2 linked regions of the Homo sapiens genome follow. The protein of the gene in region 1 interacts with the protein of each later gene in a pairwise test. Each region holds a gene or a part of one and is shown in the gene's direction. Other genes may lie near its edges.

The links.
Region 2: the proteins of FEZ1 (region 1) and MEST interact in a two-hybrid assay, tested with the Homo sapiens proteins (one large-scale study listed by BioGRID and IntAct).

The regions. Positions count from the first base shown.
Region 1 is NC_000011.10:125,461,538-125,465,285, reverse strand, and holds part of FEZ1 (fasciculation and elongation protein zeta-1), read left to right. Parts: intron 1-1,715; coding exon 1,716-1,802; intron 1,803-3,748. UniProt on the Homo sapiens protein: May be involved in axonal outgrowth as component of the network of molecules that regulate cellular morphology and axon guidance machinery.
Region 2 is NC_000007.14:130,501,879-130,504,566, forward strand, and holds part of MEST (mesoderm-specific transcript homolog protein), read left to right. Parts: intron 1-765; coding exon 766-842; intron 843-2,054; coding exon 2,055-2,118; intron 2,119-2,688.

The DNA.
Region 1 (3,748 bases):
CTACAATCAGCCACATTTCAGAAAAGGTAAACATGCCATTTTTATATAGACTTAGTGCCCACCACCCCCTACCCCCTGCCAAATCCTGGTTATAGACTAACAGTTGCTGTTAGATGCTTATGAAAAATAACCCTGTTTCCCAGGATGAGCCTAACTTGGGCTCACACTAACTTGGGCTGGGTTCATATTGATACATTTCTTCCTTTTTCTCCCCTAATTTTTGTCTGGAGGAAAAAATGTATCTTCGTTCTCTTAATTTTGGGCTAACTTCTACTGCAGGATTTTCTGGCCTGAAGAAAGTTCTTCCATATGAGTGTAGTTGTGAACAAAGCGTAGCTCCAGGAGTTTTGTTCTGCATAGTGGGGAGCGGTGGAAACCACGAGGCTATCGCAGGTGGTGGACTTGGCAGAGAGAGGAGCATATGGGTTTGACAGCGGAAATAGATGTCACCATCTGGTACCCGGGCCCTTCAGATGATTCCATTACCTCCCTGTCCTACCCCATATCTAGGTTGAGTGCGGATGGCATTTGAGATATATTTGCTTAATTTTTTTTTTCTTTTTTAATGACATAGTCCTGGTTTTAAGCAAATGGAGATAAAAGGTGATGTGCTCTGTTAGGGATGTCTGCCAAGGCAAAGCTCACAGAAGACGGGAGAAGTTTCTGAGGATAGACTACCTCTGACATTATTGCTTGGATTGGAGCTGGGCTGTTTCCTGTTAGAAAAGGCAGAATACAAGCCCCAGGGAAGGGGCCAATCGGTGTGCCAGCTACTGGAGCGCAAGGAGGATTCATTCCTGGATGAGAGGTGACTCAGCAGAGAGATTTCCTAGAGACACCTCCTGCCTCCTCCTTGTATGACGTTCAAATCAGACTTCTAGACATACAGCTTGTTAGGTGTTTAGTGATTAACTTTTCTGTGGGACTTGAATGTAAATGCCAGACTATGGCAGTTTGGGATATGGTCAGTTAAGCCAGATATGCTTTGAATAGCTTGTTAGATTTAAACATCTAGAATTTTGATGGCTGTGAACTTTGAGGATCTTACTTGGGATTATGGAATTATAGAGACACAGGGCAAATGAGATAAATGGGGTTCTCTTTTGTAGTTTTGTTGTTGTTTAGTTCATGTGGTCAGGTTATTCAGTGGCATGTCCCATGCAGATTTCTTACATCTGCCATCAGCTATGACATCATGCCTGGATTCCAGTAACAGGATGGCATTTCATCAAATTCTGAAAGTCATCATTATTTGGACTAGAACAACCTATTCCTTAAAATGCCTAGTAAGACGAAATCTGGAAACAACCCCCCAGGTTGGAACTCCTTAACAAAATCAGGGCACCTTTGCTGCAGTTGGCTGCAGTGTCACTTACCTGGAGAAGGCGCCTTGTTCACCCCAGGATGACCTGTCTGTGGGTTAAAAAACGGTGCTGTCCCCTTTGAGTCAGAATGGTGCTGGCCATTCCCCTGTCGTCTTTTCCTGCCAAGTTGGATTCAGTGCTGCATGCTGGATTTCTGGCATGCTGGAGTTAGTGATGGGGCAAAGATATGTTTGGAATTGGATGAAACTCTGGACACCTCTTCAGCTCCACTGTTTAGACAGCAGCTGGCTGGAGTGGCCTCCCAGTCAGTATCATCCATTCTCGAGACTAGAGGCAATCCCACTTCTGCTGATGGTCACCCAGAATTCCATCTCCCCACCTCCTCTCCAGATCCATGAGAAAGAAGAGGAAGAGTTCAATGAGAAGAGTGAAAATGATTCCGGTATCAACGAGGAGCCTCTGCTCACAGCAGATCAGGTATAAGTATCTCTCCAGGTTATCGGGACCTTTTGTTCTTTTGATGGAGAAAAAGTCCAAGAGAACACACTTGCCACATCCATTTAAGGCAGAAGAAAGATATGTGGTCATGTGGTGCCTGTGCTCATGACTCAGAGTATTTTTTGTTTCTTTTTTTTCTTTATATATATATACTTTTGAGACAGAGTCTTGCTCTGTTGCCCAGGCTGGAGTGCAGTGGCGTGATCTTGGCTCATTGCAACCTCTGCCTCCCGGATTCAAGTGACTTTCCTGCCTCAGCCTCCCGAGTAGCTGGGACTACAGGCATGCACCACCATGCCTGGCTAATTCTTATAAAAAATTTTTTGGTAGAGATGTGATTTCACCATGTTGGCCAGGCTGGTCTCAAACTCCTAACCTCAAGTGATCTGCCCACCTCAACCTCCCAAAGTGCTGGGATTATAGGCATGAGCCACTGTGCCTGACCTTTTTTTTTTTTCATTTTGAGACAGGGTCTCACTTTGTCACCCAGGCCAGAGTGCAGTGGCAAAATCAGGGTTCACTATAGCCTCAACCTCCTTGGCTCAAGCGATCCTCCCGCCTCAGGCCCCTAAGTAGCTGGGACTACAGGCATGCATCACTATGCCCAGCTAATTTTCTGTACTTTTAGTGGAGATGAGGTTTCACCATGCTGCCCAGGCTGGTCTCAAACTCCTGGACTCAAGCAGTCCACCCGCCTTGGCCTCCCAAAGTGCTGGGATTACAGGCATGAGCCACGGTGACTGTCCAACTCAGAGTATTTTTGATAAGGGATTTCATCTCTCTTTCTGCCTCAGGTTGCCCACCTGCAGTGAACATGAATGTCATTCTTGACACTTGGGATAGTTGGGGTCAGTCTCTGATAGGAGCCAGAGACAGGCATAGTGTTTAGTAGCTACAATCCTGCTAAGCCTTCTTATTGAAATTCGTTGTACTCGGAGTCAAGACACTCAAACAAGGGTCCCAAATACCTGTTTTCCCAAAAAGAGAAGTGACAGATGAGGCTTTTGTGTGATGGATATTTTCTTACATTTCATAGAACACTCAAAATTTTGGGCCTTCCGAAAGGAGTCTTAGAGCCACTTCGACTTTGTGAAAAAAGATAGAGTGCTTCGCATTCAATTGAGATCATCATAGCTTTAATAATTTATTACTTAGAGAGGATAATGTTCAGTTTCTGGATTCCTTATTTAATGTTTTAGTCAACAAATATTTATGGGTGCTTATTTTGAGCTAAACACTACATAAGTTTCCACAAAGTCTTTCTGCAAAGCTCCACTGGCAGCCTTCGGTGCCAGAAAGTGCTTTTTTAGCAGCAATGGTGCTTTTTCATATCTGTGATAGAAAGGTGGGAATTGAAACACGTGAGGATTAGGAGACTGAAGAGAACCAGATTTTTAAAAATAGGGGCTAATAGCTATTCTTGTGACTTGTAGGAGGATCTACAATTCAATGATATGAACTCAATTATAACTCCTCTTAGAGAAAAGGACATTCAGCCATAAGACCCTGACAGGGACTTGTGTCATTTGGTTGCATTCTGTAAAATGGCTTTCAGTAGTCAAAGACTGGGTATTTCCTAAGTTTGTGAGTAGAGGTGAAAAGGTTTGGGAATAAGAATGGAAATTATTCTAAAGGAGGAGACCCTGAAACCCCTTACCTTTGGTCCAGCCCACTGTGAAGAAACCACCTCAAAGAGTACAATGCTGGCCTCGGGGACTTTAGTCCATCCATGGAGAACAGACAAAGGTGAAGGTTGGGACAAAACTCATCTAAAGACCTGCTTTCAGCAGCAGTCTTCTTTATTTGTAAATAATTAATGTACAAAGTAAGTCACTCTTTTTTTTGTTGTTGTTGTTGAAACAGGATCTGGCTCTATTGCCCAGGCTGGAGTCCAGTGGCCCAGTCTCGGTTCACTGCAACCTCTA
Region 2 (2,688 bases), on another chromosome or scaffold:
TCAGGAGGCTGAGGCACAAGAATTGCTTGAGCCCAGGAAGCGGAGGTTGCAGTGAACTGAGATCATGCCACTGCACTTCAGCCTGGGCACAGAGTGAGACTCCGTCTCAAAAAAAAAAAAAGAAAAAAAAAAAGAAGTAGATGTCAACACAGAAGATCATGTGTTACAATCCTCTTATTTTAAAAATGAGGAGGCTAGCCAGGTCCTTTGGCACATGCCTGTACTCCCAGCTACTTGGGAGGCTGGGGTGGGAGGATCTCTTGAGGTCAGAAGTTATAGCTGTAGTGAGCTATGATTGCACCTGTGACTAGCCACTGCACTCCAGCCTAGGTAACATAGGGAGACCCTGTCTTTTAAAAAACAAACCAACAAATGAGGAAACCGAGTTGAAAGATCTGTGTTATATGTTTGAGTCAGAGAGGTAGGTAGTGGTGGAGCCTAAATTGGAACCTCAGACCTGGGCTTTTTAGTTACATAAAATCCAAACCAACTGTCAGCCTTCCTAGATCTCATTCCCTGCTTAATAAATACACAAACCCACTAATTCTTATATTGATAGTAGGCATAATCACTACTAGAGCTACATGGTGGTTAACTCTAGAGGTTAACAGAAATGGATAAATTAAGTGGGACATTTCCAGGAATGCTAAACTGCTTCTGGATTAAGAAATTGTATCTTGTGTTCCTTGTGGCTCGTTATGCCCTTGAATCCCTGTAACAGTAAAGGTTTCTTGTTCTGCACATGCTGACTTACCTGTCCTACAGTCTCTTACAGTACATCAATCAGAGGAAGAAGTTCAGAAGGCGCTGGGTGGGAGCTCTTGCCTCTGTAACTATCCCCAGTGAGTATTTTTGTATTATTGATAGGAAACTGAAGGACTATAGGGTTAAAGTAATCGCAACTCCTTTATACAATTAGGGTTACCAGATTTAGCAAATAAAAATATAAGATACCCAGTTAAATTTGAATTTTAGATAAACAACAAATGCTTTTTTAGTATTTAAGTATATGTTGTACAATATTTGGGACCTACTTACACCAAAAAAAAATCATTTTTCACCTGAAATTCAAATTTTCTGGGTATCCTTTATTTTACTGGCAACTGTACTCATGACATCTGGAACAGTGATGTGTGTGTGTAGAGTGAAGTATATAAAAAGCTGAGACATTACTGTAAAGGTAGTTGGTATTACTGATTTCTGTGGTGTGCATTGTCAGTGACTGCCACATTACATGCTGAATTGCTCGGACAGAAGGCTGTTTGGATTACTAATCAAGAGGCTATAGGTGGTTTGTGCTTATTTGTCTTTTCATTCTTACAGATTTAAAAAAAAATTATGGTGTTTCACACATAGTGATTAGTGCTCAGGAAATTATTGGTTGATTTCAAATGTCAAGGGTCTGTTATAACTGAAGAGAGACTTAAAGAATGATAGTATCCTGGACTTAGAGGATGTTGAAAGTTGGGCATATCCCATTTGGTCCAGGGTGCAGGAGAGCTGGATGAGGGACCAAATGGTTGTCTGTAGGAGGAGATGTGTCCAATGAATGAACTGGTACGTGCCTAGCAGTTTTTTAGAGGTTACCTAATAAAACAAGCTAGGTTTTGTATCACACAAAAAATTATTTATAGAAAATATTTTCTTGGGCTGGGTGAGGATGCTCACGTCTGTAATCCTAGCTTTTTGGGAGGCTGAGGTGGGAGGACTGGTTGAGCCCAGGAGTTTGGCACCACTCTGGGCAACATAGTGAGAAAAATTTTTCTCTACAGATAATTTAAAAGTTAGCCAAGTGTGGTGTTGCACACCTGTATGTAGTCTCAGCTACTGAGGACACTGAGGTGGGAGGATCGCTTGGGCCAACGAGTTTGAGGTTACAGTGAGCTATGACTGCACCACTGCACTCCAGCCTGAGCAAGGGAGAGAGAGACCTTGCCTATTATAATAAAAAAAGGAAGAAGAAAACATTTCTTTTCGGAGAGGAGTTAATTTTAGGGTGGGAGTAGAACAGATGTGAGAGCTGTTAAGTATTTCATTCCTTTTCTCTTTTCTAGTTCATTTTATCTATGGGCCATTGGATCCTGTAAATCCCTATCCAGAGTTTTTGGAGCTGTACAGGTGAGTCTCCCCGAGAGAAGTCTATGTTTTGTTAGTATCTCATCCTGACAGTGGTAAACAGAATTGCCTGTTGAGGGCTATTGGCTCTAGCCATTGTCTTTAACCTCGCTGGCTGTTCATCCAGGAAACAATAAAAAGATTGAGTTGAGGAATCTTATTCTAACATAATTGTAGTATCAAGACATTCAGTTATACGTTCTCTTGATTTATACATAGTCTGTTTTCACTGTCATGACTGCTACATATTCCTTGGTGTACAAAAAGCTCTCATGTGAGTCAAAGGTTGAAAGTGGATATACCTACAAAGTGTTTGTTTGTTTTAGTCTGATTGTAAAGCCAATTCATTGGTTTAGGCTGAGCAGATGGCAAGGAGAGATTGAGAAGAGCTCATTGTGGAAAAGTGCCTTCTCATTGGTTGCTATTCTCTCTAGGTACTTACTTGGAAGGTATCAGAATATGAAATCTTGATTATGTCACATAAGAATGTTCCATACCTTCCTGTGGCCTACTGGATACAAGCTAGTAGTAAACAGCTTGCATATAATTTTAAATAAAATACCCCCTCTCTCA